Homo sapiens: one gene and its partners. The protein of the gene in region 1 binds, or shares a complex with, the protein of each later gene. Each region holds a gene or a part of one and is shown in the gene's direction. Other genes may lie near its edges. The genes, in order: CWC22, PPIL2, PLRG1, SNRNP40, SF3B2, SNRPG and RBMX2.

Evidence for each region.
Region 2: CWC22 (region 1) and PPIL2 share a complex: the UniProt entries of both Homo sapiens proteins name them as parts of the minor spliceosome.
Region 3: CWC22 (region 1) and PLRG1 share a complex: the UniProt entries of both Homo sapiens proteins name them as parts of the minor spliceosome.
Region 4: CWC22 (region 1) and SNRNP40 share a complex: the UniProt entries of both Homo sapiens proteins name them as parts of the minor spliceosome.
Region 5: CWC22 (region 1) and SF3B2 share a complex: the UniProt entries of both Homo sapiens proteins name them as parts of the minor spliceosome.
Region 6: CWC22 (region 1) and SNRPG share a complex: the UniProt entries of both Homo sapiens proteins name them as parts of the minor spliceosome.
Region 7: CWC22 (region 1) and RBMX2 share a complex: the UniProt entries of both Homo sapiens proteins name them as parts of the minor spliceosome.

What each region holds. Positions count from the first base shown.
Region 1 is NC_000002.12:179,951,798-179,955,297, reverse strand, and holds part of CWC22 (pre-mRNA-splicing factor CWC22 homolog), read left to right. Parts: intron 1-263; coding exon 264-341; intron 342-940; coding exon 941-1,093; intron 1,094-2,699; coding exon 2,700-2,827; intron 2,828-3,500. UniProt on the Homo sapiens protein: Required for pre-mRNA splicing as component of the spliceosome. As a component of the minor spliceosome, involved in the splicing of U12-type introns in pre-mRNAs. Promotes exon-junction complex (EJC) assembly.
Region 2 is NC_000022.11:21,672,512-21,676,011, forward strand, and holds part of PPIL2 (RING-type E3 ubiquitin-protein ligase PPIL2), read left to right. Parts: intron 1-2,552; coding exon 2,553-2,604; intron 2,605-3,500. UniProt on the Homo sapiens protein: Has a ubiquitin-protein ligase activity acting as an E3 ubiquitin protein ligase or as an ubiquitin-ubiquitin ligase promoting elongation of ubiquitin chains on substrates.
Region 3 is NC_000004.12:154,537,453-154,540,400, reverse strand, and holds part of PLRG1 (pleiotropic regulator 1), read left to right. Parts: intron 1-347; coding exon 348-450; intron 451-1,187; coding exon 1,188-1,296; intron 1,297-2,292; coding exon 2,293-2,432; intron 2,433-2,921; coding exon 2,922-2,948. UniProt on the Homo sapiens protein: Involved in pre-mRNA splicing as component of the spliceosome. Component of the PRP19-CDC5L complex that forms an integral part of the spliceosome and is required for activating pre-mRNA splicing.
Region 4 is NC_000001.11:31,279,789-31,283,288, reverse strand, and holds part of SNRNP40 (U5 small nuclear ribonucleoprotein 40 kDa protein), read left to right. Parts: intron 1-1,792; coding exon 1,793-1,915; intron 1,916-3,500. UniProt on the Homo sapiens protein: Required for pre-mRNA splicing as component of the activated spliceosome. Component of the U5 small nuclear ribonucleoprotein (snRNP) complex and the U4/U6-U5 tri-snRNP complex, building blocks of the spliceosome.
Region 5 is NC_000011.10:66,062,364-66,065,863, forward strand, and holds part of SF3B2 (splicing factor 3B subunit 2), read left to right. Parts: intron 1-645; coding exon 646-753; intron 754-1,036; coding exon 1,037-1,179; intron 1,180-1,264; coding exon 1,265-1,366; intron 1,367-3,500. UniProt on the Homo sapiens protein: Component of the 17S U2 SnRNP complex of the spliceosome, a large ribonucleoprotein complex that removes introns from transcribed pre-mRNAs.
Region 6 is NC_000002.12:70,287,241-70,290,740, reverse strand, and holds part of SNRPG (small nuclear ribonucleoprotein G), read left to right. Parts: intron 1-1,368; coding exon 1,369-1,391; intron 1,392-2,548; coding exon 2,549-2,673; intron 2,674-3,369; coding exon of another isoform or gene 3,370-3,480; exon of another isoform or gene 3,481-3,500. UniProt on the Homo sapiens protein: Plays a role in pre-mRNA splicing as a core component of the spliceosomal U1, U2, U4 and U5 small nuclear ribonucleoproteins (snRNPs), the building blocks of the spliceosome.
Region 7 is NC_000023.11:130,408,487-130,411,986, forward strand, and holds part of RBMX2 (RNA-binding motif protein, X-linked 2), read left to right. Parts: intron 1-770; coding exon 771-900; intron 901-2,861; coding exon 2,862-3,039; intron 3,040-3,500. UniProt on the Homo sapiens protein: Involved in pre-mRNA splicing as component of the activated spliceosome. As a component of the minor spliceosome, involved in the splicing of U12-type introns in pre-mRNAs.

The sequences.
Region 1 (3,500 bases):
GATGTGGTTCATACTTATCATGAATTTAGAATTTTATAATTAATGTAATTAGCATAAATGACTGTGGAAGCTGTCAGCCAGACCCAAGCCTGTAAAAAATGATGAGTTTAACATAGATTGAGGTTTTTATTTTATTTACAAAATTTTTGAACTGTTTTAAACCCTTATTTAAAAATGCAGGCAGTCACTATCATACTGGTAAATTATACAATATTTAGTCTCTTTGTGTTTTGAATCATTAATGTATTTTTTTTCCCAAATAGAAAGAACTCTGCAACATGATACTTGATTGCTGTGCCCAACAGAGGACATACGAAAAATTTTTTGGCTTATTAGCTGGGGTGAGTTCCAGCCTCTACTGAGGGAATTCTTAAAACGAATATTGTAAATTAATGATTTCTGCTTTATGGTCTGGTCTCATTTAAAAACATATTACCACTTTTGCTAAAAGCAAATTATTCTCTCCTTCCTCAGGTTTCCCACTCTCTTCACCTTCCTCTTTTTCTACTTCATTTTTGCAGTGCTTTAACTTTGCATATCACTTTTCCAGAGCTTTTTGGAATTTTCCATGATTTGTAATGATTTCCCAATAGACGACAAGTAAATGCTGTCTTTTCAAAATCTCAAAGCAGTGTCTAAAGTCAAGTACATGTTCAGGCAGCACAATTAAAGCATGATCTAAAATATTTCTTTAAGCTCTACCCTCATGTGATCACCTACATGTATGATTTTGTTTTAACATGTAAATCTCAGGTAATTAGAAACCATATATATTAACTTCTTTTTTGAGCATCATATGGCACAAAAGGATTTAGTGATATATGCTCTTTGAAAATATAAAGCATATTAATAAAGTTTTGATTCAGTAAATTTAGGATTTAATATGCTCATAATTGTATTAACATTCAATTTTTAATGGTACTGATTTTTTATTTATTAGCGATTTTGCATGCTAAAGAAAGAGTACATGGAATCCTTTGAAGGTATATTCAAAGAACAGTATGATACCATCCATCGCTTGGAAACAAACAAGTTGCGAAATGTTGCTAAGATGTTTGCTCACCTTTTATACACTGATTCACTTCCATGGAGTGTAAGTACATGGGTCAATATTTATACTTCCTTCCTAATTCCCTGTTCTCAAATAGATTTTCGTATAAGCTAGCCATATTTATCCTATTATGAAATGTGCTTTAAAATGAAATGTGTAGAACTGCTGTCTTTGAGATTATCATCATGTTATAAGGAATCAGAAAGCTAGGTAAATAATATACAAGAAATACTATCTTTGTATTATATTAACAGTCCAAACATGCCAGTGTTTCGATAGTGATGGCTAGGAGTGTCTTCAGGAAAAGTACTGCAGATTTTCATCTTCTCTGTGTACACACACGTGCATGCACACTCACATCCACATATGCCACTATTTTGGTGGTAAATGTGTCTCTGAATTACTCTCCCTTGATTCCTGAGGGAATAACTCTCCATGGTTCTCTTGTTGGGTTTGAGAAAAAATGATTGTTCTAGAAGGATGTGTTCTTTTTAGCAGACATTGAAGTTGGGTAAGCTATAGAGAGGATATCCTATAGTCATAGAACAAAGAAAGATATATTCTTGATAGGGAAATGTGCACTGGATTGAAATTTGAAAGGCGTTCATTAAGCTGGCATTGATTTTACAGCTGTTTTTCAACCAGTGTTAGTTAGCCACCACTTATATACTGAGTCATTGAGAGAGGTGCTGTGTATTCAGAGTGAATTATACATGGCCCCTCCTTTCAAGAGGGTTACAGTATAAGACCAGAGGTAAGATATGCCCATAGCAATGATACAAAATAAAAAGTCTTAGATTCTAAGAAAAGCAAAATTACTAAAGGAATTTGAAAGAAAGAAAGAGAGAAGGATGAGAAATTACATCCAGGAGGAAAGAACAGGATTATCTTGTAGAATGCCATCCTACTAATGGTAGAATGAGGCAATATCTCAAACTTAAAAACATTGGTTAGATTTTTATAGTACTTTAAGTACCAAGTATGTCCAGCTACATTAATAGGCATTCGTAATCTAACCTAGGAGACTAATTGTAATAATTTTTGACTTCTTTTTTCCCCTCTTTGAGAAAATGAAGTGAGAATTTTAAACAATTAACCAACTAATGGGCCCCCCAAACACATAACCCATAAAAACTAGAGGTTACTTTTATTTTTATTTTCCCTAAAAATATTTCTTTAGGCATTTCAGTTTTTAAGCCACAGTCTTAATATTCAGAATAAACCATTATACTTTCTGTCTTTTTTTAAATCGTATGTTATGTGTGCTAAACAAAATTGTAGCCTAATGTGCTAAGTGGCATTTTGCCCCAAACCTTCATATACACCACATTTTGATGAGTAAGGTTTAGGAGCTAGTAATCTTTACCATTATATGCTCAAGAGAGGATATCTTCCCTGCTATAAAAAGCACATTACTCAAAACAGAGAATGAAATCTATTTCTGTCGCATCTTAACATTTTGAAAGTTAGTATAGAGAAGTAGTTTTAAACTTTATGTCAGCATAAGGGGAGATATTCAGAGATAACTCTGGTTGAAGATGGGAATAAATAGTAATTTTGAGAAACACTTAAACCTACAAATATTGGTCACTATGTCCTGTCTTTTATAAATTAAAATATACTTGTCTTTTTTTATTTTAATTTTCAGGTTCTTGAATGTATAAAACTGAGTGAAGAAACCACTACATCATCCAGTAGAATTTTTGTCAAAATATTTTTCCAGGAACTGTGTGAATACATGGGTCTTCCTAAACTTAATGCAAGATTAAAGGATGAGTAAGTTTGCCATTAAGCACTTTTTATTCTTATTGACCTCTGGTTTTCTCCCATTGTAGCAGACATAAGCCCATCCGAGACTGTAAAAACAAGAGCTAAGCCCCCTGAGACTTTCTTCATCCATTAATCACTGTGAATTTCATGTTATGTCACACAGGACAACATGCAACTTTTAGTGGTGGTTTTTAGTTTAAGTGGAGTTCAAATTAATGCCTTTTTAGATTTTCTTAGAAAATACAGAATTGTTTTTGTATGCTCACTTGAATTCTCCAGTGATATTTATAATTTTATTTTCTTTTTACCCTAATTTTAAGCCTTAGAATGATAACTAATATTATCAGTGGACAGTTTTGAGTATATATTTCATCTATTAATAATTGTTCAAAATATTACATAGAACTAGAGCCTTATTTCAGGATTATTATGTAATCCCCTCTCACCTTTCTTATTTCCTGTTTGTTCAGATTGCCACTTAGGTTGACTTCTACTCCATTGACACTACTGAAATCATCCTTTCAGATTTCTCAGTGACCACCTGCCATATTCAGTTGTCTTTCTCAGGCTGCATGCCTCTTCACTTCTCTGCCTCACTTATGCAGTTGACTACCTACTCACTGTGGCTCCATACTTTCTTCTCACTTCCTCTCTCAGTCTTCTCCTCAGCCTGCCTCTT
Region 2 (3,500 bases), on another chromosome or scaffold:
AGTCTTCCCCTCCTCTCCCCACACCCATTCTTTTCCAGAAATGCTTCCGGCCTGTGCACGTGTATATATGTGCATGTCTTTTCTTGGGCCATAGCTGTGACCTCGTCTTAACTTGATTCTATCTGCAAAGACCCTATATAAACCTTTGATTATATCCAAGTCAGGCCACATTCACAGGTTCCCAGTGAGCATCAGTTTTGTGGGGACATTATGCAGCCTGGTTCCGAGGGAGATCTAGTGTATTTTACCAGTGACCTTGCCCTTCCTGTTGGAATTACTTGCATGTATTCCTCCACCTCTTTCCTATGGCCTGGGGCAAGAGCTCAAACTGTGCGAGACGGAGGGTCGGGACTCCGGTGGGCTCCCTGTGCTGGAGCCGCTGGGAGGGAGCTCCCTGGACAATATGACCCTCCCTACCGGGCCAGCAGGAGAAGCTGGCAGCCCATCTGTCTCAGCTCTTCTGGCCCTTGTGGTGTTCTGGGGGCTGCAGGGTTCTGGGGACTCTTTGTAGATGGAGTTGGTGCTCCTCCAAGGCTTCCCTGCTCTCCAGTACAAGGGGAACTTGGCCAGGGGGCTGGTTTTTGAGTGTTCTTGGACCAGCGACTAAAGCCCGTGGCTTTTCTCTTTCAAATGCTTGGGTAGGGGGCTTGTGGCCTCACCTCCTTAGGGAGGGCACTCTTCTTCCTTGGTCTTTGTCACTTGAAGACTGTTTCTGTGATGTCTGCTGCTGGGAGCCACATTGGATCCCAGGGGCTTCCCCCAAGGTCCGTGCCCCAGTCTGGGAAGTCATTCTCTGTTGCTCTTCTCAGCAGAGGTCCCTGCTGCCTGCCTGTGCCCTGTGTGGCTGGGTGTCGGCCTCAGGGAGCAGCCTGGTGGCAAGGTGGGGGTAGGTGGGGTTTTCCTGTCCACAGCTGCCCTCATGGCCCCTGCTGTCCCAGTGGATTCTGTCATTTGGTTGCAGCTGGGATGCATTTTGCTACTTTGGGTGTTTTGCTTCACAGGTACTCTTTGGGGTTCCCAAACTTGTCGATTGTGCTGGCCCCCACACCCACAAAGTCTGATCTGGCAGTTAGCCACGCTGTTAGGGCTTACATCAGGGAGGTGTGGCCATTTCTTTGTTCCAGGCATCATGTTGGGGTGAGTCTGCAGGAGCGCCCTACACGTCTTTATCCTGTGCCTGCGCCTCTCCCTTGGCCTGCTCTGGAAGGGACCTTGCTGTGTGCTTGCTTGGCCAGACCTATGGGTGTCAGCAGAGCCTTGCTAGCCAAACCTCTGAGGAGAGTTCCTGGGCCAAGGGCTGGCTGGCCCATGTGACTTTTGGGGGCTCAGGAGGAGCCTGTTGTGTTGGGGAGTCTCTCTGCTCAGGTCCTGTGTCTGAATAGGGACCCTGCTGGCCCTCTGGTGGTCTCCTCCACACCTGTAGTGATGTAGGGAGGTGGGGGTAGTTGAATGACAAAGGAAGGAACGAAGGTGGTTAGAGGAGCAGATGCGGTCAGTTGGGTTGGCCAGCAGCAGGCAGGGCCCACGGAGGGCGGGGAGGGCAGCTTAAGGACCTGCTGCCAGCTTAGGGCCCAGCCCCAGGAGGCTCCCGCTGTGTCTCCCCTGGGCCTGGGTAGGCATAGCTGGGCCCAGCCCACACCAGGTGGCAGCAGCTGCTGGATTGTGGCCCTGAGTGAGGTGCTCCCCAGCAGCACATAGCTCTGCCTCCCTTCCAGGGTCTCCCCACAGCCCCGCCCCCAGCAGTTCCCACCTCCGGTTGTCCAGACTTTGTTTTATGGGAAAGTTTGCTGTGGAAGAGCTGTACTGCAGACACACCACAGAAACTGAAAACATTACCTGCCACCTGGGGTAGGGGAAATAAGAAAAAAGAAAAAACATCCAGAAACAGAAAAATAGAGTCCCATCTTCCCAACACAACCATTCTTAGCATTGGAGTGTATTTCTTACTTTCTCCCCACTTTTAATGTTTTGTTTTTCTTAAATATTCATATGACAGAGCACTTTGGGAGGCTCAGGTGGGCAGATCATGAGGTCAGGAGATTAGCCTGGTGTGGTGGCGTGTGTCTGTAGTCCTAGCTACTCGGGAGGCTGAGGCAGGAGAATCACTTGAACTAGGGAGTGGGAGGTTGCAGTGAGCTGAGATGTTGCCGCTGTACTCCAGCCTGGTGACAGAGAGGGACTCTGTGTGTCCCACCACTCTAGCTGAAGAAATATGTTCACTTTTTAATTTTAGAAGTAATCTGTGCTCACCATAAAGACGTCCAAACCCTGCAGAAGTATAACACACACCACCCTGTGGCCTGGTCCTCCTGCTCGGGGTCACCCGTGACGGCTCTTCTCAGAGCGTGGTGGGGGTGCCACATAAACACAACTGCCCGACGCCATCCTGCAGCCCCCGTGAGGTCCTTGCAGGGTCTTGGGGCCTTCCCTTTTGTCCAGAGCTGCACAGGGTTGGCCTAGTCAGAGACTTTTCCTGCCTGTCTCTGACCCTAGCATCTCTGTGCATCAGTTACTTATTCATTATCATTAATTATTAACTGTGCTTCTTCCAGAAGCTGGACGGGAGGTCCCTGATCAAGCTGAACTTTTCCAAGAACAGTGAGGGTGAGTGGAACTATCACAGCCAATTCTGGGCTTGACCTGCAGACCCAAGGGCCCAGCTCTCACCAGTTTTCATACGGAATCAGTCATTGCTTTCTGACCAAGCTAGACACCTGCTTTTAATTCCGCAAAAAGTGTCACAGGGCTGGGCACGGTGGCTCACACCTGTAAACCCAGCAGTTTGGGAGGCCGAGGCGGATGGTTCACGAGGTCAAGAGATTGAGACCATCCTGGCCAACATGGTAAAACCCCGTTTCTACTAAAAATACAAAAATTAGCCGGGCATGGTGGCGGGCGCCTGTAGTCCCAGCTACTCGGGAGGCTGAGGCAGGAGAATCACTTGAACCCAGGAGGCAGAGGTTGCAGTGAGCCAAGATGGTGCCACTGCACTCCAGCCTGGCAACAGAGCGAGACTCTGTCTCAAAAAAAAAAGGTGTCACAAGATTTCTTCTCAAAGGTCTGGGTAGTTTTAAGGTGGGGGAGGTTGGGGGCAGAACCTGTGGTGTTGGGAACTTCCCACAAAGGCGATCAGGCCATTGTAAGCTGCTAGTGGCCTTTGTGGGCACAGTTGGATCTGCAGGGCATGGGCCCCCTCTGGCTGAGGCTGTGGTCTGTTTGTTGTTGGAGGCAGAAGTTGCTCATGCTGGGAACCAAGGCGGCAGCTGAGTAGGGGATGTGGGTGGTCTGGAGGGATTTGTCCAGTAGCTCTTGGGCTAGGCTTTTCTTTGCCACAGCTCATAGAGCCCAGCCCAGTGCTGCGGCTCCTGCTTCATGCCCATTACACACCTTCCGCTGTTCTTGTGGCCAGAGGCCCGGATGAGTTGTGCAGCCCACCCCTGCCCAGGTGGTGATCTTGTGCTAGGTTCTAGTCCAGGTCTTTTGCCTGTGGAGATGCTATG
Region 3 (2,948 bases), on another chromosome or scaffold:
TAGTGTTATTAGTGCCCTGCCCCTGAAATGTGATATTCTCACGTTCCATTCTGTAACAACTATTGTCCATTAGTTCTTTCATTCAGTAGTCTTAAAAAGTAGTCCCATCATACTCATTCTTAGATTTTCAGTACCCTGATCTTTTAGCTTTTTAGAATTCTTGCAAGTTGTCTCCTATTTATATTCGTCCTCCAGTTTGTAAATCATTATCTTTCACTTAAGCATTTTCTTTATTATATTCAGGCACTAGTTATGTAGTAAATTTTCAGCCTTGAATTGATCCAGTTATCTTCTTGAGATAATGAATACCTATTCTCTTTCCTAATATGTCTATTGTGTTTTTATAGATTTGGGATGTGAGAACTAAAGCCAGTGTACACACATTATCTGGACATACAAATGCAGTTGCTACAGTGAGATGTCAGGCTGCAGAACCACAAATTATTACAGGTATGATCGATACTTTTCAAGTTTACAGAATATTCATGTCAGAATCCATGTTATTATACATATACTTTTAATATTCATGATGACTCTTGCTCTGTATTGTGTTTACAGTGTTTCTGTGTCATATTTTAATCATGGACAATTGAAATGTATTCAAATGAAATTTCATTCCACTGTTTTTACCTCATGCTTTTTACATATCATAGAGTATGCCATACATAGTATCCTGTAATGTCTGACTAGAATACTGTGTTATGAACAATTATTATTTTATAGTGTCAAAATTATTTTTCTAAGAAATTGAAGTTAGAAGACAAAACATCTTGAGACTAGTAATCTTTAGAACTGATTTGAATCTTACTTTGCTCTAAATAAAGTTAGTAACAATGGATCTTTAATACTAGAAAATAATTCCTTTGCCTGATGTATTTTATTAACTTAAAAAAATCATTGAAGTTTTTTCCTTTTCACTAGGGTATACAATTATATATTTATTTGTTATTTGCATTTGTTTTAGCTGTTCAATTGACAGTGAATCAATTGTTGTATTGCATTTTTTTAAAGAATTAAAATCAACCTAAAAATTTGGAACTATGAAGAAATTAGCCAAGACTAATTTGCGTGTGATATGACTTTCATTTAGAACATATGTGTTTTGGAAGAATGCTTTGTATTTTATTTAACTTTTGCATTATTTTTCCTGGTCTATGTTTTGAGGGATATATGTGTTTCCATTACAGGAAGCCATGATACTACAATTCGATTATGGGATCTGGTGGCTGGAAAAACAAGAGTGACATTAACAAATCACAAAAAATCAGTTAGGGCTGTGGTTTTACATCCAAGACAGTAAGTGTATTTTCCTAATTAGCTTCTTGTTTTTCTTCAGTTCTTAAGATAATGCTGAAATGCTAGTGGTGTTAGCACTGCTTTTGGCAGTCATTTAGCTGCTGTCATTTCTAGGCCTGTGCCGCATAGGAACGTGTGTTTCTTTTATTTTCCTCATGCACTATTTTGCTTCATGCCCTATAAAACATGAGGAAAGCCTTCTACTTGATAACAAATAAATAATGTCAAATGAGACAGTGTAAATCATGATTAAATGCTGCATGTCAAAATAAAAGATATTAGTGGCTAGGCTTAATGTTTTGGACATAAATGATTTTGGACACTGAGACATTCATTGAATAGTTTAATTCTTAAGGAGGAAGTTAATATATGTAGAAACAGAAATAATAAGAACCGTGAACATTACAGTCAGAGTATCCAAAAAGGTGGAGCATAATATCACAACTATTGTTTGGTGTATCAGATCACTCTGACACTTTTCTGGATTCTTCCTCTCCTTCCTTTCCTCTTCTCTGTCTTCTACTCTCCATACCCTTTTCCCCCTCTCTTCTTCCTTCCTTTGCTTATCTTTCTCACTCCCATTTCGCCTCTCCTCCCTCCTGTTCTCTCTCTTCCTCTTGCCCTCTATTCCTTTTCTCTCTTTCTTCCTGTCCTGTCTTGCTCTCCCTCCCTCCAAAAGAGTTGCATAACACATTGCCCTTCATGTGAAATAGGGCTTCTGCACATTTATTGCTCTGGCTTAGTGCAGAGCATTAAGGAAATGAAAGGAGAACAAAACATTAATCTAGGACTTAAAATATACTGTTAAAAATGTGAAGGTCTGATTTAACCTTGAACAAATGTCTTAATATTTTTACATTTTGATACGACTATTTTGCTGAATATATAAATCATTGAGTACACACTGCAAAATATAACTGAAATAAACTTTTTAAAACCCACCACTTTATTTAACTTGGTTTACTTTGTCGTTAATTCTTTTTAATATTATTTCAGTTACACATTTGCATCTGGTTCTCCAGATAACATAAAGCAGTGGAAATTCCCTGATGGAAGTTTCATTCAAAATCTTTCCGGTCATAATGCTATTATTAACACATTGACGGTAAATTCTGATGGAGTGCTTGTATCTGGAGGTAAAATAAGATTTTTATAATAAATATGTTTAGTCTGTTATTTTTTCTTTTAATGATGAATAAACATTTGTAATGCTTCTAAGCTGTCACACTTAAGTATTATAGCAGCACTTGCCTGGTTAGGGCATATTTGCATGTTATTATGTGTGTTCATGCATATTCATATTACATGTAGTATATTTCATAGCTTAGTCCTCTTTGAGTTCCCATCTAATGAATCTCAGGGATTTATGCTGGGAATTGCTTAAAATTTTGTTTATTATTCTGGAATTGGATGTCAGATTTTCAGGTGCTTTTTAAGATCTATAAGTTCTGAACCCAGCCCAAATGAAAGTAGACAAACCAATATTAAGAGAAGGTGGAGTGCCTGTGTCTTATGTATTTTTATAACCGTAGTATTCCCATGCTTGGGCTAATGATGCTTCATAAATGTTTGTCAAGCTGTACTGCTGAGGGGATACCAGGTGTAACTAGATTTTTCCCTTTAAGCTGACAATGGCACCATGCATCTTTGGG
Region 4 (3,500 bases), on another chromosome or scaffold:
GTTTGTATTCTTTGTCCTGTGTGACCACTGAATTCTTTTTTTCGTTAGCTTAGTGGTCAGCTAGTGAATGACACAAGTTTCCTAAATTACCTACAACAACAAGAACAAAAATTCTCCCAGTCTTTGCAGATTGTCTTTTTGTATGTTGGAGCCTGCCTTCAACTCCTTGCCATGCAGTTTACATCTCTCCTTAGCTTTCACTTCCTGCTTGTGCAGAGCCTGAAGGTGAACCAGAGAGCTTACGGCCTTCTCAGATCTTTTCTAAGTATGTGCCCAGCCCTGGACATGCAAGTGGTCTAGATTGCCAGGAATGGGCCAGGCGTGGTGGCTCATGCCTGTAATCTTAGCACTTTGGGAGGGTGAGGCAGACAGATCACTTGAGGCCAGGAGTTTGAGACCAGCCTGGTCAACGTGGCGAAACCCTGTCTCTACTAAAAATACAAAAATTAGCTGGGCATAGTGGCACACGCCTGTAATCCCACCTACTCGGGAGGCTGAGACATGAGAATTGCTTGAGCCCGTGAGGTGGAGGTTGCAGTGAGCCAAGATCGCACCACCGCACTCCGGCCTGGGTGACAGAGGGAGAGTCTGTCCCTAGATAGATAGATAGATAGAGATTAGATAGATAGATAGACACATAGATACATAGATAGATAGATATAGATGATAGAAAGATAGATAGATAGATAGATAGATAGATAGATAGATAGATAGATAGATAGATAGATAGCCTAGGCGACAGAGGGAGAGTGTGTCCCCAGATTAGATAGATAGATAGATAGATAGATAGATAGATAGATAGATACATAGATAGATAGATAGCCAGGAATATGTCGGTGCTTTTCGAAGCTCTTATTCCCCAAATTGTCTCCTTCCCCAGCCCTTCCTCCCAAGGTTTTTGGTTTGTATTTTTGCCCCAACTGTTTTTCCTTGCCCCCAGGAACCAGAGGCTAATAATGTCCTTTCCTTTAAATGTTTTCAAGGGAAGTTCCAAGTTAGGCAAAATAAATGTAAGTCCTTTGGGCTCATCCTTCAGAGAGCCACCAGACAGGTAAAAATAAACAATTTTTATTGTTTATTCTTTGACAATAAGAAATAGGCCCCCTTTGCTTCCTCAGTACTAGGAAACCATACTGGGAATATGGGTTATCTTCAAAGCTGTTGCTGAGCAGGAGACAGAGCCAGCACAAGTTAAAACACTACAAAGCCCTTTTACTGGGACTCAGGGAGTTTTTTGTTTCCTTTTTCCTCATTAAGGGTTTGCCGGGTTACTATAAACTTTTGATTAGTTTTGAGAGTTCCAACAGTTGATTCTGACAGATTTTGCTGGTTAATTTGCTGCTTTCGTGGAGGGACAAGCTTTTGTCATTGTTTATTATACTATTTTCACTGACATACCCTCTATTTTTTTAAATGTGGGTTGCAGCCTACTAATGAATTAGTCTCTACGGTTTGAAAAAATTGTCTGATATCCTTGTTGTTCTAAAAAATATATGAACTAAGTAGTTAGGGGAATTCCATTCTAAGAGTATGTTGATTTAACTCTGTTCACTTCAACAAAGAAGTCTGAAAATATAACCGAAGTTTTGTTTCACCAGCCTTCAAATGTCTTGGCAAAATTGAGCACACTGCTTACCATGTGTGTTATTAGGATATCCAGGAGTTAGTGATATAGGATCCCAATTATAGATGTGTTCATGTCCACAAAGTCCTCGTACTTAAGGGATATTTGTACTGTGCAATTGCTTCTTAGAATGATGTTGCTGATAGACTGTCTTGTCCTTTGCTTCAGCTTTGGGACATCCGGAAGAAAGCAGCCATCCAGACATTTCAGAACACGTACCAGGTGTTAGCTGTGACCTTCAATGACACAAGTGATCAGATTATTTCTGGTGGAATAGACAATGATATCAAGGTATGTTTGATGTTTATGATATATTTCCATTTCATCTATCTGCACTTAGAAACGAATTTTTTCAAACTTCTGAGATTGTGGTAGCTTTGCACTTAATACCAACTGAAAGGAAAATAGTAACTTGGAACTTATTTTCTTTTTCTCCTGTCTTCATTGACTTCCTAAATTAAAGTTTGCATTGCAGATCTTATAAATGCTGTCAGGGACCAGGCACTTAATGTGAAGTGTGAAGTCTCTGTAGGGGGACTATGTAAAAAATAAAGAGTGCATTTCCTTTTAAAGACATTCAAAATCTTTTTTTAACCATCTTGGTTTAAAGAGAGCAGTGAATCAGTTTGTGATTCTGTATCCTCATCTCTCACTGTGTTTTTCTTTTTGACACTATGGAAAGAGAGTTTTCTAAGTTTCTCTAAGAATGAGAGAAGGTAATGATATTAAAGAGGCAATAGACCATATGGCAGTAGAGTGTAGCTCAAACTTTCAAGTAATTGACTTGGGTTCTAATCCCAGTTTCACCATTTTCTAGTTTTGTGACTTCAAGCACCTTCTTTAAGCCTCTTTTTCTTGTGTGAATGGTGAGGGGGTAATGATAAAAAAAAAAAAAAACAGTAGCATCTACCACATACCATTGTGGGGATTAAATGAGCCTGATTCATTAGAGCACTTAGCAGAATTCCTGGACATAACAAGTGCCAGGAAATGTATTATTTTGGGCCTGCACAGCTTCTGTCTTCCTTTCCTCTTGGCTTCCTTGGGGATCTTAACGACTTTGACCTTACCTTCTGCTTTATAGTAAGAAGAGTAACTGTCAGATACTCAACTTTCTGTGTTGTCCTTACCTAGAAGTTGTACTGTATTTCCATCCCTCATTGTTTCCTTTGCTGTTACTTTGGATGAAATATCCTTGCTTTTGGCCAGGTGTGGTGGCTCACACCTGAAATCCCTGCACTTTGGGAGGCCGAGGCGGGTGGATCACAAGGTCAGGAGACCGAGACCGTCCTGGCCAATGTGGTGAAACCTCGTCTCTACTGAAAATACAAAAATTAGCTGGATGTGATGGTGGTGTGCCTGTAATCCCAGCTACTCAGGAGGCTAAGGCAGGAGATTACTTGAACCTGGGAGTCAGAAGTTGCGGTGAGCTGAGATCACGCCACTGCACTCCAGCCTGGCCACGGAGCAAGACTCCATCTCCAAAAAAAAAAAGAAAGGAATATCCTTGCTTTTGTCTAAAGGTAGTCCTTTTTTTTTTTTTTTTTTTTTGAGTCAGAGTCTTCCTCTGTAGCCCAGGCTGGAGTGCAGTGGTGCTATCTCAGCTCACTGCAACCTCTGCCTCCTGGGTCCCAGTTCAAGCAATTCTCCTGCCTCAGCCTCCTGAGTAGCTGGGATTACAGGCACGTGCCACCATGCCCAGCTAATTTTTGTATTTTTTAGTAGAGACAGGGTTTCACCATGTTGGGCAGGCTTATCTCGAACTCCTGACCTTGTGATCCACCTGCCTCGGCCTCCCAAAGTGCTGGGATTACGGGTGTGAGCCACCGTGCCCGGCCTAAAGGTAGTCCTTTAAATGTGAGGGTTTCAATCCTTC
Region 5 (3,500 bases), on another chromosome or scaffold:
GGTGTCTCAACACCTGTAATCCCAGCACTTTGGGAGGCTGAGGTGGGAGGATCCCTTGGGGCCAGGGGTTTAAGACTAGCCTGGGCAACATAGTGAAACCGCACCTCTACTTTAAAAAAAAAAAAAAAGAAAAAAGAAATAATTTTTTTTTAGCTTCACTTCAGTCTCTCAGAAATAATTTTATCTCAAGAATGTCTTCAAATTTCTTATTTTAAAATAAGCATTAAAAAAATTGATGAGTCATTAAAGTAAAACAGTAGTATTGTTAAATTTTAGATAGAAATTTCTGCCCCTTAAGATAAATAGATTCTGAACAAGCTAGCTTTCCAAAGTTAGGAAAACTCAATAAGAAATTGAAGTCATGTTTTCAATGTACGTATTTTGGTTTCAGACAGTAAAGACTCTGCCATGACAGAAGTTATTAGCATACTTTCTGCCTCCTGTCTCCTTATCCTGTTGCCTCCAGATTTTAGTTGTTTATTAATTTTGGTTTCTAATGCTTCATAACATTTGATTTAATTCTGCAGTCATAATTTCCGGAGTTCCCAAGTATCAGCTCTGTACTTTTGAGTGTGCCTTTTCTCTAGGGCTTCAGAATTTCTTTTGCAGCTAAGGAGTGAACTGATTGTGCTCACTGTCTTGCAGAGCTGTTCCTTTGGGTACCATGCTGGTGGCTGGGGCAAACCTCCAGTGGATGAGACTGGGAAACCGCTCTATGGGGACGTGTTTGGAACCAATGCTGCTGAATTTCAGGTATGGGCCATGTACTAGCGATCTTGGTTTTACTTAATGTCATGAAGGTTAGATTGTTGGTTTATAGCTTCATTATCAGGGAGTTGTGTGTTCTGACACAGCAGAGCCTGGAAAAGGGCATACATTTTCCTGAGATGTTAATGTAAGCTCCTCACTAGAATTTGAGCTCTAGGTAGGTAGGGATTATTGTGTTTTGACTCTTACACCCCTTCAGCTTAAAACAGCCTGGCACATAATAGGTACTTAGAAAACATTTGTTGAATGATAAAGTGATCTCTTTCAGACCAAGACTGAGGAAGAAGAGATTGATCGGACCCCTTGGGGGGAACTGGAACCATCTGATGAAGAATCCTCAGAAGAAGAGGAAGAGGAAGAAAGTGATGAAGACAAACCAGATGAGACAGGCTTTATTACCCCTGCAGACAGGTGGGGGAAGCAGAGAATGCCTCTTGGAAGTGGGCTATCTTTGGGGTCCTTCTCTTTACTCCAGAGCTTGTTCCTCTCTTTACAGTGGCCTTATCACTCCTGGAGGCTTTTCATCAGTGCCTGCTGGAATGGAGACCCCTGAACTCATTGAGCTGAGGAAGAAGAAGATTGAGGAGGCGATGGACGGGTAAGGGTACCAGACAGGGCTGAGAGGGGAGGACCTTCACTTCCCTTTGGCTGGCTGGCTGACTGTTGTTCCTTTCTCCCTCATCCTTTTTTAAACAATTATTGAACCAACTCTCTGCCAGGCACTACTGTAGGCAGTGAGGAGTCAGCAGTTGAGGTAAACTGGTAATCAGAGAACAAGATACTTTCAGATGTAGATAAGGATGTTGAAGCAGAGGAAACTGGGTAATGGGATGGGGTGGCAGGGAGGCCTTTGGGAAGGCCTCACTGGGGAGGTGGTGCTTGAACTAAGACCCGAATGAAAAAGCGCCAGCCACAGGATCATCTGGGTCAGAAGTAACAGTAAATGCAAGCAAGTGCAAAGGCACTGAGACAGGGATGGGCTAGTATTTTGAAGCTCCATTTTTAGGTAGTTGAATGTGTAGTGTTGTTAGGTCTTCATGAATTGACCCCTTTATCATGAAATGACCCTCTCTTTATCCATTCTGCTCTTTGTTCCCTTTTTCCTGTTTTTCTACCTTCTTTTGGATTACTTGAACAATTTTTATGATTTCATTTTATCTCCAGTGTTGGTTAATTAGCTGTTAAGTTTTTGCTTTGTTATTTTAGTTGTTGCTCTGGGGTTTATAGATCATGTCTTTATCAGGATCTACCTTCTCTTGATGTTACACTGCTTCCAGATAGTATTAAGAGCCATTATAGTATACTTCATTTCTCTCCTCCCAATTTTTGCACTATATTGTCATATATTCACTTTTACATATGTTATAAATCCTATACTATATAGTTATTATTTTTGTTTAAATGGTCAGTTATCTTTTAGGGAGGTTTAAATAAGAATCATGCATGAAGCCATGTAGTTACCATTTTTGTTTCTTTCATTTCTTTGTGTATATCCAGGTTTCTATCTGATATCATTTTTCCTCTGCCTGAAGGGCTTCCTTTAACATTTCTTAAGTTAGGGGGCGTGGTGGCTTAAGCCTGTAATCTCAGTACTCTCAGTACTTTGGGAGAAGGCTGAGGTGGTAGGATTGCTAGATTCCAGGAATTTGAGACCAGCCTGGGCAACATAGTGAGACCCCATTTCTACAAAATATTAAAAAAACATTTCTTGTATTGTGGGTCTGCTGGTTTTGAATTTGTTCTGCTTGAGTAGTCTTAAAAATTCTTTATTTGGCCTTCATTTTTGAAAGATCTTTGCCAGGTTTAGGATTCTAGGTTGACAATCTTTTTTCTTTCAACACTTTTTTTTTTCTTCTTTGAGATGGAATCTTGCTATGTCGCCCAGGCTGGAGTGTAGTGGTGTGATCTTGGCTCACTATAACCTCCACCTCCTGGGTTCAAGCGATTCTCCTGTTTCAGCCTCCCGAGTAGCTGAGATTACATGTGCATACCATCACACCCAGCTAATTTTTATATTTTTAGTAGGGATGGGGTTTTGCCATGTTGGCCAGGCTGGTCTCGAGCTCCTGGCTTCAAGTGATCCGCCTGCCTTGGCCTCCCAGCTTGTTGGGATTACATGTGTGAGTGACCGCATCAGCCTTCTTTCAGTACTTTTAAGATGTTGCTCCAGTGTCTTCTTTCTTGCATTGTTTCTAGTGAGAAAACTGCTGTCATTCTTACCTTTGTTCCTGTGTACATAATGTGTCATTTTTATTTGGCTGTTTTTAAGATTTTATCACTAGTTCTAACAATTTGACTACAATGTGCCTTGGTGTAGTTTCTGAATGTTTCTTTGCTTGGGGTTTTTTAAGCATCTTAGATCTGGGTTTTTAGTTTTTATTAATTTGGGGAAAATTTTGTCATGATTTCTGCAGATATTTTCTCTGTTCCCTTCTCTTTCCTTTGGGAACTCAAATTATTCCTCTATTAATGAAATAATAAATGAAAAAATAAATGAAGAGCTCACTGATGCTCTTCATTTTTAAAGAAATTCTTCTCTCTTTGTATTTCACTTTAGAAAATTTCTATTGCTATATGTTCAAGTTTACTATTATTTTCTTCTGTAATTTCTGATCTAACAGTAATCCCATACAATATAATTCTCCTTTCTAGAAGTTTGATTTCGGGTCTTTTAAATCTATTCTTTCTCTCTTAACTTTTTGAACATGTGGAATGCAGTTATAACAATATTT
Region 6 (3,500 bases), about 110 Mb from region 1:
GTGCTGGGATTACAAGCATGAGCCACCGCGCCCAGCCCATAAATATATTTTTACTTGTAAATGTATCTACTCCCTCCTTCAGTCATGCTCCTTGTTTTATATTTACATTTTCCCATGATAATCCTATACATTAAAATTGAATAAGTGCCCCACTTCGTGGCCCATATACTAAACATCTTTTTTTCATTTTTTTATATTTTAAAATTTGAATGAAATTTTTAAAATTGAATGAAATTTTATGTTTTCTGGCCTATATGGAAGAAATTAAAAACTGATTTGACTGCATGGCTTAATCTCGTATTCCACTAAAATGGAATTTTTTTTTAATTCATATCGTTTGAAGTTTCAAATGTGCATTTATTATTCTAAAATATACTTAAATGTTGAGGACTACCCTGAACATTTATGCTTGATGCTTTAATATTAAATAAAAGAACACTACTTATTTCAAATATAAAATACCTATTGAATTGGATATGATTTGATTACTGTTTGCTGTCTTTACAACTTAGTTTTGGAAATAACCAAACATAGGCAAGTCTTTGTTTTTCTCTTGTGACTATAAAATCCAGTCATTGAAAATTAGGTCAATGAGACCAGATGTGGTAGCTCATGCCTGTGTAATCCCAGCGGCACTTTGGGAGGCTGAGGGGGAGTATATTTTTCGAGGCCAGGAATTCAGGACCAGCCTGGGCAACATAATGAGACTCCCATCTCTTAAAAAAAAAAAAAAAAAGAAAGAAATTTAGGTCAATGAAACAACGTAGTATTGAACAATAAGAATGTAATTCACATTAGTATACTCTACTTAATGTAAATTAATATAGTCTAAATATGTTTCATTTTTATTGCCTTTCCTCTTCCCAAATTACTTTGCTTCCTAGAATGTCTAATTTAGGTAACCCTTTACGCCCCCACTCTTTTTTTCCCCTGAGACAGTTTCGCTCTATTGCCCAAGCTGGAGTGCAGTGGCGCAATCATGGCTCACTGCAGCCTCAACGTGGCAGGCTCCAGTGATTCTCCGACCTCAGCCTCCCAAGTAGCTGGAACCATAGGCATGTGCCACCACCCCCAGCTAATTTTTGTATTTTTGGTAGAGATGGGGTTTCACCATGTTGCCCAGGCTGGTCTCAACTCCTGAGCTCAAGCAGTCCACCCGCCTCAGCCCCCTAAAGTGCTGGGATTACAGGCGTGAGCTACCTCGCCCTACTCCCTCACTCTTTACAGCAATACATTATTTTTACTATTTTAGATTTCATTATTCCCATTGTATAAATTTTAGCAAATTATCTTAACTATACCTATTTACTTGTTTATGCTTAAATTTTTTTAATTGGTTATATAATCTTTACCCTTTTCCTTTTTCAGATTTATGGACAAGAAGTTATCATGTAAGTTTGTTGTTGTTTTGGGGTTTTTTTTAATTATTTAATTGCTTTTTACATGTGTCTTAGCAATGTTTGGAGCAACTTTATAAAAATTTAAAGCAGCCAGGCGCGATGGCTCACGGCTGTAATCCCAGCACTTTGGGAGGCCGAGGCAGGCGGATCGTGAGATCAGGAGATCAAGACCATCCTGGCTAACACGGTGAAACCCCGTCTCTACTAAAAATACAAAAAAAAATTAGCCGGGTGCAGTGGCGGGCGCCTGTAGTCCCAGTTACTCGGGAGGCTGAGTCAGGAGAATGGCATGAACCCAGGAGGCGGAGTTTGCAGTGAGCCAAGATGGCGGTACTGCACTCCAGCCTGGGCTATAGAGCTAGACTCCGTCTCAAAAAAAAAAAATTTAAAGCACACAGGACCTCTAATTCACATCCGTTAGTTAAGCAGATTACTTAATCCTAACTAGACAATTTTATTTACCTAATTTCTGATAATTAATTTAACAGCACTTCAGACTTTATCTTATGTAAGCCCTTCCTCACTTTGGCAAAATTAACAGGATTTATCAACCTTTTTTCTTTAAACAAGCTACAAAGGACTTAGACAAGGAACAGTTATCTTGTTTCTTGGGAATATGTAGGAATAACATTTGTTCAATTTATCTAAAAATCTGACCCACACAGTACTTGAAATATATGTAGGGGAAAAAACCATGAGCGTTAGAGGTAAGCAGCCTTCAGCTTGAATCTCACTTCTGTCGTACAGTAGCTGTATAACCATGAACCCAGTTACTTAAAAGCTCGGGCACGGTGGTTTACACCTATAATCCCCCAGCACTTTGGGAGGCCAAAGCGGGAGGATCCCTTGAGCCCAGGAGTTCGAGACCAGCCTGGGCAACATAGGGAGCCCCCATCTTTATAAAAATTTTAAAAAAGCTCTGAAGTTTAGTTCTGTCCTATAAAGTAAGGATAATACTACTTTTTAGGATTCTTATAAATTAAAATGTGGAAGTAAATACAAAAATGTTTAACCCAGTTCTTGTCATACAGTAAGGATAGTGGGTTTCAGACATCTCAAATACTTGTGTTTTATCCCACCTGATTTTTAGTGAATGCTTGGTAGCTAATGGAATGTTTTTCTAAAACTTCTTTTTCTCTTTTTAATAGTGAAATTAAATGGTGGCAGACATGTCCAAGGAATATTGCGGGGATTTGATCCCTTTATGAACCTTGTGATAGATGAATGTGTGGAGATGGCGACTAGTGGACAACAGAACAATATTGGAATGGTGGTAAGTAAAGATACAAGAGTTCTCTTGGAGATTTCATTTTTCTTTTGGAATGTGTATTAACTTTCCTGGTTAGTAACCCCCAGAAATGGCAAATAACAGGCAAGATTAGACTTTCCATCTCCTTTTTAGTTGCATACGGCAGTTACTCAGCTGTAGTAATATCCTGGTTACCTGTAGGTAAGATCTCAACTATACAGAACCTAAGGTCCTAGCGCTTGAAATAGCTGTTGGAAATCCTTTTTGAGCTTTATTCTGCAATAGAGGCTCATAGTTGGTCCTTCATTAGAGCAGTAGTTCTGAAACCTTAATGTGTATATGAATCCCCAGGGAATCTTCTTAAAATGAAGATTCTACTTCAGTAGGTATGGGGCAGAACTTAACTAAGGTTTTGCATTTCTACTAATGCCTAATGCAGATCTGCCAGTTCACAGGTAACACTTTCTGATTTTACTTGTATACATAGTTAACCTGGATTTTCTGGTTTACCACACCCAAAATTTTAAGGTAGCCAAGGTAAAAGTTACAAGGGATAATCACAATGACAGTTATTCACATGAGAGAAAAAGCAGGAAAAAATAAGCACATACTGAGCCCTCATAGGATTAAACATTCCTACATTCATTGGGCCGTAGTTTTAGTGATTGCTGAAGAAGAGTTTTGATACCCAGACTTTGAGTCCCTCTTTGTCTAACACAGGACAACATACCTAATAAAGCGGTAAGCCCAAAGTTCTTGAAAAAGGTGAACCAAAAAGGACAACTTACTTTTAGCAAATTATTAAGCATAAAGACCTCCAAGGAGTGGTAAGAGTTGCTAATTATTAGCCT
Region 7 (3,500 bases), on another chromosome or scaffold:
TTTATTTTTTTTTAATTTTGCTTCGTCTTCTCTTTCATGCTGTTGTTAGGAGAGTAGCTTTCAAGTTCTAGTTAGGTAACTTTTTTTTATTTAAAATATCATTTCCAGCTTTATAACATTATAACTGGAAACATGGTCTGTTCTGTTTTTTGTAGTATAATTATTGAGGTTTACATTGAGACCTAATCCATAGTCAATTTTAATACATGCTTCATGGATTCTTGAAAATGTCATCTTGTAGGATTCAAAGATATCTATGTATCTAATAGTCCTACATTAATATTTGTTATTATAACAGAGTAATTATGTATATTAATTAATCTGATTTTAGTTTATTTCTGTCCACTTTGTGCGTGATAAACTTCAAAGTGATGTGTTAAATTCTCCCATAACTTTCTCTATTAGTTTCTTTTTGCATTTCAAATAGCTTTTTTAATTAAAATTTTTGATTTCTTAATTGGCTCATAACGTTTTCCTGGCTTATACCTTTGTTGTGTATTTAGGCCTTTTTCAGTGTAAAATAATCTTCTTAGTCTCATGTGATATTTTTATTTTGGCCTTGAATTAGTCTTTGCTCTGGATATTGCCACCCATTTTTTAATTGGGGGTTCCTGTTCTTGTCTGACTTTTTCTTTGCAACCTTTCTATGTCATCTTGTTCTAGATGCATCTCTTGTATACACTATATTATTTGAATTTTGTTTTATTACCTTATCTGCATGTTTTTGCCTTTTAAGTCAACAGTGTCTTACTCTTTTATAAAATAAATAGATATGGGGAGATTGTTAACATTAATCTCGTGCGGGACAAGAAAACTGGGAAATCCAAAGGATTCTGTTTCCTCTGCTATGAAGACCAGAGGAGCACAATTCTGGCCGTCGACAATTTTAATGGGATCAAGGTGAGTGTGCTTATTAAGCAGGTTGGTTGGACTTTTTTCCCATGTATAGGGGTTTCGTTTTCTACCTGGTTCCCGCAGACACAAGGGCAGCACTTGTGAGCTTGGTGTGTTGCGGGGGCTGCAGAGATGTGGAGACACTGGTCAAGAAGAGATTCCAGGAAATAATTCTGTTGGCTCATGGTCCTGCAGGACTTGCTTCTTTTCCCCATCTGTTAACAAACCATCTCCCCAGGAGCATAGGCACCAGGCCTGCCTCTCATCCAGGCCTCTGTTTTTCACCTTTCTTTTATTGTCTACTGTCATCTCTGGTGTACTGGAGGATGAAGAGACTAGCAAACATTGCTCTTCCATATTGTTGTGTGTTGGGGGTTTTGGGCTTCATCATGGCCTCATAATCTAGTACATAGCCATGTATGTCTGTCATATATCTCCAGTGACCTAGCATATTGGGCCCTAGAAATTCTCTAGTTAAAATCTGATGGCAGATTCTACAAAAGTAATTTCATCCTGAAATTTTCTCCCCCCAGTTCCCTCTCATTTCCACTGTCATAAGTGAGGCACTGAGTTCTTAGAAGGAGATAGCGCAAGTCAGGCTTATTGATGCTCCATGTGGTTGCTGCACTCATTTAGGAAAAGAGCTGCAGTTGAACAGTGTCACAGAGTTGGTGGGGGGAGGCTTGAGTTGGAGAGTTTGTCACTGATTCACGAGTATGGAATAGCTGGAGATTATAGAACAGAGTGGAACAAGGTTCTAGGCTTGATGTTTAAGGAAGCCAGCAGTCAGAGGGCATCACTGTAAAAGGAAGGTTTTCCAAAGTGTTTCAAAATGGAGAAGAGGATACATGACAGAAGCCACTTAGGCCTTAAGGTAAAAATAAAAATCTGCTCTTGTATTGGAACAATAAAAGCCAAACTTTAAATTTTGGATGACTTTGCCTAGGGAGTAAGTCTGTATCTGCCTAAAAATAGAATATTTTTATTTTAAGTGAGGTGTTAATTTTTTGGGGGGTGGGGGAGGGGGACAGGGTCTCACTCTGTTGCCCTGGTTGGAGTGCAGTGGCGTGGTCTTGGATCACCACAACCTCTGTTGCCTGGGTTCAAGTGATTCTCCTGTCTCAGCCTCCTGAGTAGCTGGAATTACAGGTGTGCACCACCATGCCCGGCAAATTTTTGTATTTTTAGTAGAGATGGGGTTTCACCATATTGGCCAGGCTGGTCTCGTACTTCTGACCTCAAGTGATCCACCCGCTTTGGCCTCCTAAAGTGCTGGGATTACAGGTGTGAGCCACTGCGCCCGGCCAGAGGGGTTAATATTTTGTTGTTGTTCATCTGGAGAGATGTGATTCGTTGTGCAAGAATCAGCGTGAGCTGATTGTTCCAGTATGGTGGGGCTAGAGCAAGGTGTGAGGGCTTAAGAAAAAAGCAAGTGCCCTTTTCTTGATTCCTTTCTCCCTCCAAACTATTGGTCTGACTTTGCCTCCTAATTACTGGGTGGAGAAAGCAGTTGTAGCATTAAGCTAGATTTCAAGAATTCCTTCTAGTTGCCAGACCTTCCTAGGGTATGTTTCACTGTAAACTTAGGTTACAGATCAAGGGTGATTCATTGTGCATCTAAATCTCAGTCTTCCCTGATGCTTGTGCTTTGAGGTAGTTTTCCTAGTCTTTTTCATTTTATGGCACATACAGAACATGAAGATATTTGTATGCTGCCCCAGAGTAAAGTGATGAGGCTGCTGGTACAACTGCCCCAGGCCTCATCTGGCTGCACTGAGAGCTGAATGTATTAATATTTAGGTGTACATGCTATGACACACCAGTTGGACAGGTCTGCTTTAGTGACAGAATTTAACAAGAAGGTAAAGGATGTAGTTCAAATCATGGTTCTCTGTAGCTTGTGTTCAAATAGTTTGACAGTTTGGTATGAGGGCTGTCTTCACTGAAGCATCGCCTGTCTTGCTTAGATCAAAGGAAGAACTATCCGAGTGGATCATGTGTCTAACTATCGGGCTCCTAAGGACTCAGAAGAAATAGATGATGTGACCAGACAACTCCAGGAGAAGGGCTGTGGGGCTCGTACCCCCTCACCAAGTTTGTCTGAGAGCTCTGAAGATGAAAAACCAACAAAAAAGCACAAAAAAGGTAAAGCATTAAGACTTAAGAGAAGATTCTGGGTGGTCTTAATGTCTGCTCTTCCTTGCATTCACTGATAGTTGATAATCAACTCAAGTGTGAAAGGGGAAGGTGTGGGGAAGCATAGTTTAATTGGGAAAGCAGGGAGTATCAGTGGAAGGCTGGTGCTATGGGCAGAATTGTGTCTCTCCCCAAGTTAATATGGTGAAATCCTAACCCTCAGCACCTCAGAATGCGACTGTATTTGGAGATAAGGTCTTTGAAGAGGTAACTCAGGATGGGAATTACCTTGTACAGCCACTCGACATATCAAAGGTGACAGACATCCAAGTTGGCTTCTCGGAGGCACTCTCCTGGAGGCCTAGACAGTGGCTGCTTCATGCTGCTGCCAAGGTTGTTCTCCTTATGCACATTCCCCACTTCCTAGCATGTGAAAGTTTCTGTCGCCCAGGCTGGAGTGCAGTGGCACG